Linked DNA regions of Homo sapiens: all the other regions are linked to region 1. Evidence: fine-mapped expression QTL. A gene starts in region 1. Each other region holds a variant in brackets. All regions are shown on one strand. Distances are between the middles of the regions.

Region 1 (2,688 bases):
AAACTATGAAGCCTCTTACAGAAGAATACACACATATATAACTTTGCATGTTATTTAACAAAATTCATGGACAGCCAAATAGAGCCACACACCCCTCCATTAAGAAGAATTTTAGGGGCCAGGTGCGGTGGCTCACTCCTGTAATCCCAACACTCTGGGAGGCCGAGGCGGATGGATCACCTGAGGTCAGCAGTTCAAAACAAGCCTGGCCAACATGGTGAAACCCCGTCTCTACTAAAAAGTACAAAAATTAGCCGGGCATAGTGGCGCACGCCTTAAGTCCCAACTACTTAGGAGGCAGGAGAATCGCTTGAACCTGGAAGGAGGAGGTTGCAGTGAGCCGAGATCTCCACTGCACTCCAGCCTGGGGAATAAAGCAAGAATCTGTGCGCCGCCCCCCCGCCAAAAAATTAACTTTAGGGCCGGGCGCGGTCGCTCACGCCTGTAATCCCAGCACTCTGGGAGGCCGAGATGGGAGGATACCTTGAGGCCAGGAGTTTGAGACCGGCCTGGTCAAAATAGCAAGACCCCATCTCTCTTAAAAAAAAAAAAAAAAAAAAAAAGACTAATTTAGAATATGCCTTTATTTTACAGATAAGGGAAAAGAACCAAAGAGGTGAACTAAGTAATCCAACTCAAGGGTCTTTCCAGTCTTCACCGTTTTTTCAGTTTTCCAAGGATACAACCATAACCCCAAATTTACAAGGACAAAATCTCAAACGCGGCAGCTATGCTGAAGCCCGCATCATATCACATACCCCCTCGCTTTAAGAAAAACGACATATATATCTATACATATATACCCATCTTTCTTCTCTGGCTTTGGGGCAGCATTGGGACATCTTTTTCCATTCTTCGTCGATATATAACTACACTGCTTGAAGGGTGCATTCTTGTCTTCAAGGATATGCTTAATGCAAAACTCCTGCCCCTCCAGACGAGGGTGAGAGCATGGACGATGAGTGAATGCACAAGACAGAGGTTCCTGAGACCTGGGCACTGGAGTGATCCTCCCCCGATTGGTTGGCAAGACGTGAATCCGAATCCTGTTCATAACCAAAACCTGCGGGGTCAAACGAAAGACCAAAAAGCCCTTACCCTTCCCGAAAATTCCTGCTCCACACAGATCGCGCGGACAGTTTCCAAAGGACATGCAGAAGTCGTCCCCGTAAGGTACGCTCCGTAAGTCCCCGCCGCCCTCCCCAAGTCTCCACAGGCATCTGTGGCTTTGCCTCCCTTTAGCGTGTCCCTCCATGCCCGGCCCCACCCCGAACCACACCACGCTGAATGTATCTTCAGGACTCGCACAGCTGCAGCACGAAGGGAAGCGACAACACCAGCCCCACGCGGCGGCCACGCCGCCTCCCCGCACGCCGCCTTTGTCCCGGCCTGCCTCAGAGCGCACGACTGGGCCTGGCCTCGGAAGCCTATGCGAGCGCCATTTTGTCCTACGGCTCCAGTCACCGGAGATCCTGGCTCCTGGAAGCCTGCAGGAAGGAGACTGACTCTGACACTGCTTTGAGGCGGAGTAGCAGCTCTGAGCTGACAAAAAGAGCGAAATAGCAGCCCAACCGCAAGAGCTTAGAGGAAAGAGCACCGCCATCTTACCTCAGGAGCTGCGCTGCGCCGCACTCTGCCGCGCCGCTCGCCCTTCTCTAGTGGCGCCAGCGGCTCTCAGATCGGCCTCGCCCCTTTCCGGACTCCTGGCTACTCATTGGCTACCGCTCGTATGACAGGATGTCGCCATTGGCCGAGACCAACTACCTATCGTGTCTGGGAGGGCGGAGCGCTGAGAAAATGCGAGGTTGGGGTGGCTAAGACAGACTGTCTGTCAGCAACTCCGCCCGGAGGAGAGTGAGCCGGGGAAGGGGGCGGAGAGCGGGCTGCGGGGCGGGTTGCCAGCTAATATTTTTCCACCTTGCAGCGTGGCTCGTTTTCCGGCTACTTTTGGACCCTCAGTCTGTGGTCCTAGGCTGCTGTTCCCTCACCACTGTACACAGCTAGTATAAAATCAGACAGACAGGCCGGGCGCGGTGGCTCACGCCTGTAATCCCAACACTTTGGGAGGCTGAGGCTGGCAGATCACCTGAGGTCGGGAGCTCGAGTCCAGCCTGAGCAACATGGAGAAACGCCGTCTCTACTAAAAATACAAAATTAGCCGGGCGTGGTGGTGCACGCCTGTAATTCCAGCTACTCGGGAGGCTGAGACAGGAGAATCTCTTGAACCTGGGAGGCGGAGATTGCGGTGAGCCGATATCGCGCCATTGCACTCCAGCCTGGGCAACAAGAGCGAAACTCCGTCTCAAAAAAATATATAAATAAAAAATAAATCAGACAGAGGCTGGAGGATCACTGTTTACACATAAAAAGTCTTTAGCTTTCTTTTGTGAACAGTTCAATACATGTACTGAACATTTGGTATAGAGAACACTGAGAAACATTTTTTGGGTGTTTACTGATTCTGGGAATTACATGTATAAAGTCATTGAATTTTTCAAAGCAACCCTAAGAGGTACAGGTTAGTATTATGTCCATTTTACAGATAAGAGGACTGAGGAACAGAATGGGACCATAGCTATTAAATGGGAAAGGAAGACGAATTTGAACCCAGCCCGCATTCTTTATCCCTTATTGCCTCTTATATAGTAAAGAGCATTGGACTGAGAATAAGGAAATATTTGTTCTAGT
Region 2 (2,688 bases), 21 kb before region 1:
AATTAGATAGTGGTGGTAGTTGCGTAACTTTGCGAATATACTAAAAATCACTCAATTATACACTTTCAAAGAGTGCAATTTATAGTATGTAAATTGTATCCCTAAAAAGGTATGGGAAGAGTCTGGAAAAAAATATAAGGTAGGGTAGATTTCTCTAAATGAATATGCTAACATATAAATACAACTATACGTATATATCACTTCAAAAACTTTGTCGATTCTCCTAACCACAAAGACTAACCTATTCTCACCATTAATAAATAAGGCTTTGTCTCAAGGGCCTGAACCAAAGCAGAGCTTCTCTAACTTACATCACTGAACTCCAGAGGTAAACTCTCAGTGGGCTGAAGCTCAGCAGCACTCAAGTACAGATCCATGGGGCCGGCTTCCAGATCGTCTGGCACAGACAGTACCTGCTCGGGCTTATACATCTGAGGAGGCAACTGGAAATGCAGTGGGCAGCAGGGATCCTCAGAGAGGCTTACAGGAACAGGTTTGTTGCAGGGTACCTCTTCAGATCCCTGGCAGCACTTGAAGAGAACCTGATTCGTATCCTGACAAATATCTGTAGAAAAATGGTCAAGGGAAATAAAACACAATCTATCGAAAGCATAAAATACAAATAGCATTGTCTGCCACATAAAACTCAAGGTGTGGACTATATAAGATAAATTACAACTACATTTGATACAGAATACCAAATGCAGTTAGCAATTTTTAAAGTTACTTCTCAAAATAAATGTCATTTACTAGCATCAAATTCTAGCTCTACCAGTAATTTAAAACTTGTCCCCAACCTCCTTTTCAGGATCCTGGTCATTTAAACTAGACACCATCCCATTCTCCCTTAAGCAAGTAGCAGTAACACTCCTAGGAACACACACATATTCAGAAGAAACATGTAGTGGCAAATGCAAATAGCCTTGAAAATGCCCCTAAACAGCCCTTCCAAAAGAGTCAAGCGATACAATGTCTCTGCTCCCTTAGCAGACTGGCAAAGTTTGCAACAATTTCTTGGACCTCGTTTCCAAAGATGATTACATGATAAATTCATTTAAAGCACCACTGGAATAGGGGGAAACAGAGCTCTAGTAAAAGTCACTAGGTATCATATCCTAACAAGAAATTAAATATACATGC[CT/C]TTTTTTTTTAGGGGAGTGTGCTAGTACAGAGGAATCCTTTTATGATCCTAAAGGAAGAAGAAAATTTTGTGTATGAAGGCCCATTGAAAAAAAAAAGTATTCTAGAAACATTCCAAGGACTCTATTAACAACTTTTGTTAAAGGTAGAAGAAGAAAAGGGCTATATTTCCAAGTTAGCAAAGAAGCTCTGTAGGATGAACCAAAATTGAGATGATTAGATACAATAAAATTCAAGTTACTTTACAAAACACATTTTATGCAAGTGCTACCATTTCTTGAAATCTGTTAACTACCTGGTTATCTTCCTAGATTAATAAACATTATTTTAAAATTTGACTTATTTTTAACCAGAAAACACAATTTTTCTTAAACTGATAGTACCTGAATTATGGAGTTATAATTTTCAACTCAAAACTTTTATGGTAATTTTTTTAAATAAAAAAACTAACATACATTATAATTTTTAAAACCATATGAACTTCCTTGAATAAAGCTATTTCTTTCAATGCATACTTGGAAATAACTAAACTCTCAAGCAGGGTGTGACAACTGTGGCACTACCAACACTGTAGGCCAGGTACATCTTTGTTGGAAGAAGGATGTATAGCAGCATTCCTGGCCTCTATCCACTAGCTGTCAGTAGCACCTCCATCTGAGTTGTAACAACCAAAAATTTCTCCACACATTGCCAACTGGAAAACAAAATGGCCCCCAGTTGAAAACCACTACTCTAAAGAAACAGAAGATAGTACAAGGCAAACAAATATTTATTGAATGATCAAATGAATAAACATATGAATCTAATGGGAATCATCAGATTTGCACTATGCGCTTAAGAAAATCTAAGCAATATCTAATGTGCTTAAGAAGCCCACTCTTAATATTTAAAATATTATCCATTAAATGTTTCAACCAGAAATTTTTTTTACACGAAGTCTCGCTCTGTCACCCAGGCTAGAATGCAGTGGCGTGATCTCGGCTCACTGCAACCTCTGCCTCCTGGGTTCAAGAGATTCTCCTGCCGCAGACTCCAAAGTAGCTGGGATTACAGGCACCTGCCATCACACCCGGCTGATTTTTATACTTCTAGTAGAGACAGGGTTTCGCCATGTTGGCCAGGCTGGTCTCTAACTCCTGACCTCAGGTGATCAGCCCGCCTCAGCCTCCCAAAGTGTTGGGATTACAGGCGTGAGCCACCACGCCTGGCCAAGAACTTTTTTTTATTGGAATTCAAAGGACTTTCACAAGTCTCTTATGTATTTAATACCACAATATCCTAAAAAAGGACTCCCCCCATCATCCTCCACCCGCTTTCCTTTCAGATGGGGCAAAAGAGGTAAAAAGAAGGGAATGGTTAACCTACAACTAGAGTCTGGGTCCTTCACTTTCAGTCGAGTGCTGTCTCCATTAGACCACAGTAAAGAGTTAACAGGTCACCAATGGCAGTCGCATCTTTCTCTGGGATAAGGACTTAAGGAAGGGTAAGTGACTTAGGCAACTATGGAGTGGAAAGGAAAGAGCATAAAAGGAAAAAAAATACTTCCCT
Region 3 (2,688 bases), 39 kb before region 1:
CTTTGTGTCCAGCATTTTTTCTGCAGCTGAAGACAGTGACAACAAGCTAGTAATGCTAAAAATTTAACTCAACAAATATTTGTGACCTGCCTGCCTTCCTTCCTTCCTTCTTTCCTTCTTTCTTTCCTTCTTTCTTTCTTTCCTTCTTTCCTTCTTTCTTTCCTTCTTTCTTTCCTTCTTTCTCTTTCTCTCTCTCTCTTTCTCTCTCTCTCTCTTTCTTTCTTTTTCTTCGGTCTCCCTCTGTTGCCGAGGCTGGACTGTACTGCCGTGATCTCGGCTCACTGCAACCTCCCTGCCTCGGGCTCCCGTGATTCTCCTGCCTCGGCCTGCCGAGTGCCTGGGATTGCAGGCACGTGCCGCCACGCCTGACTGGTTTTTGTATTTTTGGTGGAGACGGGGTTTCGCCTTGTTGGCCGGGCTGGTCTCCAGCTCCTGACTTCGAGTGATCTGCCCGCCTCGGCCTCCCGAGGTGCTGGGATTGCAGATGGAGTCTCGCTCACTCAATGCTCAATGTTGCCCAGGCTGGAGTGCAGTGGCGTGATCTCGGCTCACTACAACCTCCACCTCCCAGCCGCCTGCCTTGTCCTCCCAAAGTGCTAAGATTACAGCCTCTGCCCGGCTGCCACCCCATCTAGGAAGTGAGGAACATCTCTGCCTGGCCGCCCATCGTCTGGGATGTGAGAAGCCCCTCTGCCCGGCCGCCCCGTCTGGGAAGTGAGGAGCGCCTCTTCCCGGCCGCCACCCCATCTAGGAAGTGAGGAGCATCTCTGCCTGGCCGCCCCATCTGGGATGTGAGGAGCGCTGCTGCCCGGCCACCCCGTCTGGGAAGTGAGGAGCGCCTCTGCCCGGTCGCCCTGTCTGGGAGGTGAGGAGCGCCTCTGCCCGGCCGCCACCCCGTCTGGGAGGTGAGGAGTGTCTCTGCCCGGCCACCACCCTGTCTAGGAAGTGAGGAGTGCCTCTGCCCGGCCGCCACCCCGTCTGGGAAGTGAGAAGTGCCTCTGCCCGGCCACCAACCCGTCTGGGATGTGAGGAGCGTCTCTGCCTGGCCGCCCCGTCTGGGAAGTGAGGAGCGCCTCTGCCCGGATGCCCC[G/A]TCTGGGAGGTGAGGAGCGCCTCTGCCCGGCCGCCCCGTCTGGGATGTGAGGAGTGCCTCTGCCTGGCCGCCCCGTCTGGGATGTGAAGAGCGCCTCTGCCCAGCCACCACCCCGTCTGGGATGTGAGGAGCACCTCTGCCCGGCCACCACCCCGTCTGGGAAGTGAGGAGCGCCTCTGCCCGGCCGCCCCGTCTGGGAGGTGAGGAGCACCTCTGCCCGGCCGCCCATTGTCTGGGAGGTGGGGAGCGCCTCTGCCCGGCCGCCCATCGTCTGGGAGGTGGGGAGCTCCTCTACCCGGCCGCCAACCCGTCTGAGAGGTGAGGAGCACCTCTGCCCGGCCGCCACCCCATCTGGGAAGTGAGGAGCGCCTCTGCCCAGCCGCCCCGTCTGGGAGGTGAGGAGCACCTCTGCCTGGCCGCTGTGCAATCTTCCAAGTGTGAAGTGACAGCCTTTCTGCAGGTGTACCCAACAGCTCTGAAGAGACAGCAACCATCGAGAACGGGCCATGATGACGATGGCAGTTTTGTCGAAAAGAAAAGGGGGAAATGTGGGGAAAAGAAAGAGAGATCAGATTGTTACTGTGTCTGTGTAGAAAGAAGTAGACATAGGAGATTCCAAAAAAAAAAAAAAAGTTGTGAGCATTGGCCATATACATAGCTACCAGGAATTCATTATTTATCAAGGATAAGACCAATGCCATCACAGTTCTGGCACACCATAGGGAATAATACCTAGCATACTTAGAACACTACTAGCTTAATATAATGAATAATATATTCATTCATATCAGGTTCATCTATATGTCAATAAATGCTCAAATACAAGGCAAGTGAGAAGCAGGTGAGGGACTAAAGAAAGAAAAGTCATGAATAGGATATATGCTTAACAGGGATACCTTCTTAAGACATATGTCATTAGGCAATTTCATCATTGTGCAATCATAGAGTACACCTACACAAACCGAGATGGTATAGCCTACCACCCACCTACACTCTATGGTATAGCATATTGCTCCTAAGTTACAAATCCGTACAGCATGTGACTGCACTGAATACTATAGGCAACTGTAACACAATGGTAAGTATTTGTGTATGTAAACATAGCAAAACATAGAAAAGGTACACTAAAAATACCATATTATAACCTTATGGCACCACCATCACATATGTAGTCCATCCGTGACCAAAATGTTATGTGGTGCATGACTATATGCTTTAGGTAGCATGTGGGTGCAAAATGAGTTACTCCACACTAAGACTTGTATAAAACACATGCAAAGTTACTTTAAAAATATAAAACAGCCCTAGGCCAAGATTTGACTGAAACATTTATTGATATTAACATTTTCTTTTGGTTTGTGTGTGTTTTCTTTTTTTTAAGAGGTAGGGCCTCGCTCTGTGGCCCAGGCTGGAGTATAGTGGCATGATCGTGGCTCACTGCAACCTCAAAATTTCTGGGCTCAGGTAATCCTCCCGCCTCAGCCTCATGAGTAGCTAGCACTACAGGTGCACAGCACTGTTGTACCAGGCTAATTTTTTTCTTTTTTTTTTTTTTTTTTTTTTAGAGATGGGGGTCTGTCTCTCTATGATGCCCAAGC
Region 4 (2,688 bases), 52 kb before region 1:
TTTGACTTCTTCCTGGATTGATTTCAGCTTAGCCCCTTCCTCAAAGTCTGATGGACTAGAGACCACTGCAATAAAAAGATGGAGACTGTGGGATTGAAAATGGATGTCTACCAAAATGAGGTAACTGTATTTTCCAATTGGAATTGGCCTCCCTATCCCCAGTGGTAGCAGCTTCCCCAACCCCAGCGACAGCAGCCTCTGTCCCTGTCTGAGGGAATTAATCCCACATTGCCTGAAGAAACTGTAATTGCCTCCCCTGGGGCAGTTCCCATGCAAGACAATGCTGATTCTCCTCAGAACCCATACCCATCACTCCTCTTTGGTTCTAAAACTATAGCTAGACCCAAGTCCCTGCAGGCCTCTAAAGGTGAGCACAAAGTGTGACCCATGAGGACATGCACTACAATCCAAAAGAATTACTTGGGTTTTCTAATTTATACAGACAGAAATCCAGTGAACATGCATGGAAATAGATCTTGAAATTGTGGGATGATGATGGAAGGAACGTAAAGTTGAATAAAGCCGAATGTATTGATATACATTTGTGACAGTGGGAACCAGACCACCTGGCTGATCCTAGTGGGCTTCGGGGAGCTGCAATATCTGGGTTTCCTTCCCTTCACTCTCCCTTCAAGGCTCACTAAAGCAGAAATTCTGCATTTAATGTTGCAGCTTGGGGAACTAGGAAGGATTCTAACAGTTTGTTTAGTTGGTTGACTGAAACATGAACCAAAAGGTGGGATACAGTAAGTGAATTAGAAATGCTGGATCTGCCTTGATTTAATGTAGAGAAAGGATTCAACGGCTAAAGGATATTGAAATATTAGAGTGGATTTGTTACTTAAGACCTACTTACCCATGTGAGAGGGCCCAGAAGACATACTTTTCACTATGACTAAGAAATAGGGAAGCCCCGGCATCCTTGAAGAGCTCTGTAATCTCTCTTCACTGTAGCCCAGACCTTACGGTGAGGACTGCAGTCACTGAATTGGGAAACCTACATTCAATGGGAGTGACTGCATCCTGAGATGGCAGAGGCCAAGTGGCAGCACTCAACCTCCAAAGGCAAGGTGTACATGGTTGCCACAATGGACAGCAGAGTCAAATCAGCAATCAGAATAGCCGGACTCACACAGACCTATGGCATACTGTTTCTAGAAATGCAATAGATAAGAAGCCTACTAAATTCTTACTTGATCAGAAAAGTTCTAAATCAAGTGAACATCAGCTAAGTTTTTATCAGGGTTATTCTACTAGTGCCACAAGAGAGTTAGATTGGGATTGTAAGAATGAAGGGGAAGTGATGATGAGGGTAACAAGAGGGATTGAGAATCTCAGCCATCCATCTTATTGGTTACAAGAAATGAAACTATTTCAACTTCCCTTGAATATCTTTCTTCATTTT[T/C]CTCCATGCCAAACCTACTCTTTCTCATGTAGAGAAACCTTCCAAGGATGGTTTTTCTGTGCTGCCTTCCAAGGATTCTCCTCCGCTACCTTTCCACCTTTTCTCTTGCATGTACCTTGGGATATAGAACAAAAGTGAATATATACAAGTGAGTATTTGGCTGGGAGATGAGGCTGGAAAGGTTGATTGGGAAACAGACTGTGATTGATTGATTACTGGTCATTCCAATTTTAATTCCATAAAATGACACCAAATAATTTTGGATTTATTTGGAATAAAATTCCAAATTAATAAATTTATTATAATTATAATTATTATTTTATTTGGAATAAAATTCTAAATTTATTAATAAAAGCATTTAATAAATTGTTGTATATTTTCCATGGGCTAATTATTGCTTAGGACTGGGAGTGCATATGAATTATAAATGATCTCTGACATTGAGGATCTCATAGTTTTTTCAACTCAGTCTTTTTTTTTTTCTTTTCTTTTTTTTTTTTTTTGAGATGGAGTTTCACTCTTATTGCCCAGGCTGGAGTGCAATGGCACCATCCGGCTCACTGCAACCTCTGCCTCTCGAGTTCAAGTCATTCCCCTGCCTCACCCTCCCGAGTGGCTGGGATTACAGGCGCCTGCCATCACACCCGGCTAATTTTTTTTTGTATTTTTAGTAGAAACGGGGTTTCACCATGATGGCCAGGCTGATCTCGAACTCCTGACCTCAGGTGATCTGCCCGCCTTGGCCTCCCCAAGTGCTGGGATTACAGGGGTGAGCCACTGCACCCGGCCTCAACTCAGTCTTAAAAATGGATTTTCATTTCAGATAGCACTAGTACAGCATAAGTTATGTCTCATCTTTCCCATGGCCTATTGGATGACCTCTCATCATGGAGCACTCTCCCTTTTCTATCCATACCTTTTGCTCTCTCTGACACAGGGATCTGCTTGGTTCAGTGTGAGAGTAATTTGAACACCCAGGCCTTTAATGGAAAAAACTGCTGATGGCAGTAGTGACAACGGGATTTTCCAGCTGAACAACTTCTGATACAAAGACCACAAGCATTCCTCAGAAAATGCCTGCAACCTAATGTGCAGCAGTAAGGACTCTATCCCTCTGAGGGCTGGATGAAGTGGGAGCAGGTAAAATAGGTGCAAAACTGAATGCACTGCTCCCTATCACCTGACTGTCAGCCTGTGCTGGGGAAGCTGAATATGGGGAATAAACAGTCCTCACACTGAAACAAGATCCCACAGAGATCATCCTGACAAAAAGAAGGAAGAAA

Evidence for each region. PIP is the estimated chance that this variant, and not a neighbour inherited with it, causes the effect. A credible set is the group of variants that fine-mapping cannot tell apart.
Region 2: its variant is the best candidate, but not a certain one, in a credible set for the expression of KANSL2 in whole blood (INTERVAL, PIP 0.69).
Region 3: its variant is the best candidate, but not a certain one, in a credible set for the expression of KANSL2 in thyroid (GTEx, PIP 0.51).
Region 4: its variant is the best candidate, but not a certain one, in a credible set for the expression of KANSL2 in blood mononuclear cells (TOPMed, PIP 0.69).

What each region holds. Positions count from the first base shown.
Region 1 is chr12:48,680,579-48,683,266 of GRCh38, forward strand. KANSL2 (KAT8 regulatory NSL complex subunit 2) reads right to left here and starts at 1,660. Exons shown (of 10, transcript NM_017822.4): 1 at 1,609-1,660; 2 at 804-1,063. The coding sequence starts at 1,054. RefSeq lists an enhancer at 1,358-1,627 and silencers at 1,708-1,917, 1,958-2,007.
Region 2 is chr12:48,660,055-48,662,742 of GRCh38, forward strand. It overlaps KANSL2 (KAT8 regulatory NSL complex subunit 2), which reads right to left. Exons shown (of 10, transcript NM_017822.4): 8 at 312-565. Among named protein-coding and RNA genes, the nearest start is that of SNORA2A, 4.6 kb to the left of the region's middle. The variant CT/C (reference allele first, on the strand shown) is at 1,141.
Region 3 is chr12:48,641,160-48,643,847 of GRCh38, forward strand. LOC124902928 reads right to left here and starts at 2,492. Exons shown (of 1, transcript XM_047429953.1): 1 at 1-2,492. The coding sequence starts at 1,791. The coding sequence ends at 748. The variant G/A (reference allele first, on the strand shown) is at 1,091.
Region 4 is chr12:48,628,832-48,631,519 of GRCh38, forward strand. No RefSeq gene overlaps it. Among named protein-coding and RNA genes, the nearest start is that of SNORA2C, 24 kb to the right of the region's middle. The variant T/C (reference allele first, on the strand shown) is at 1,406.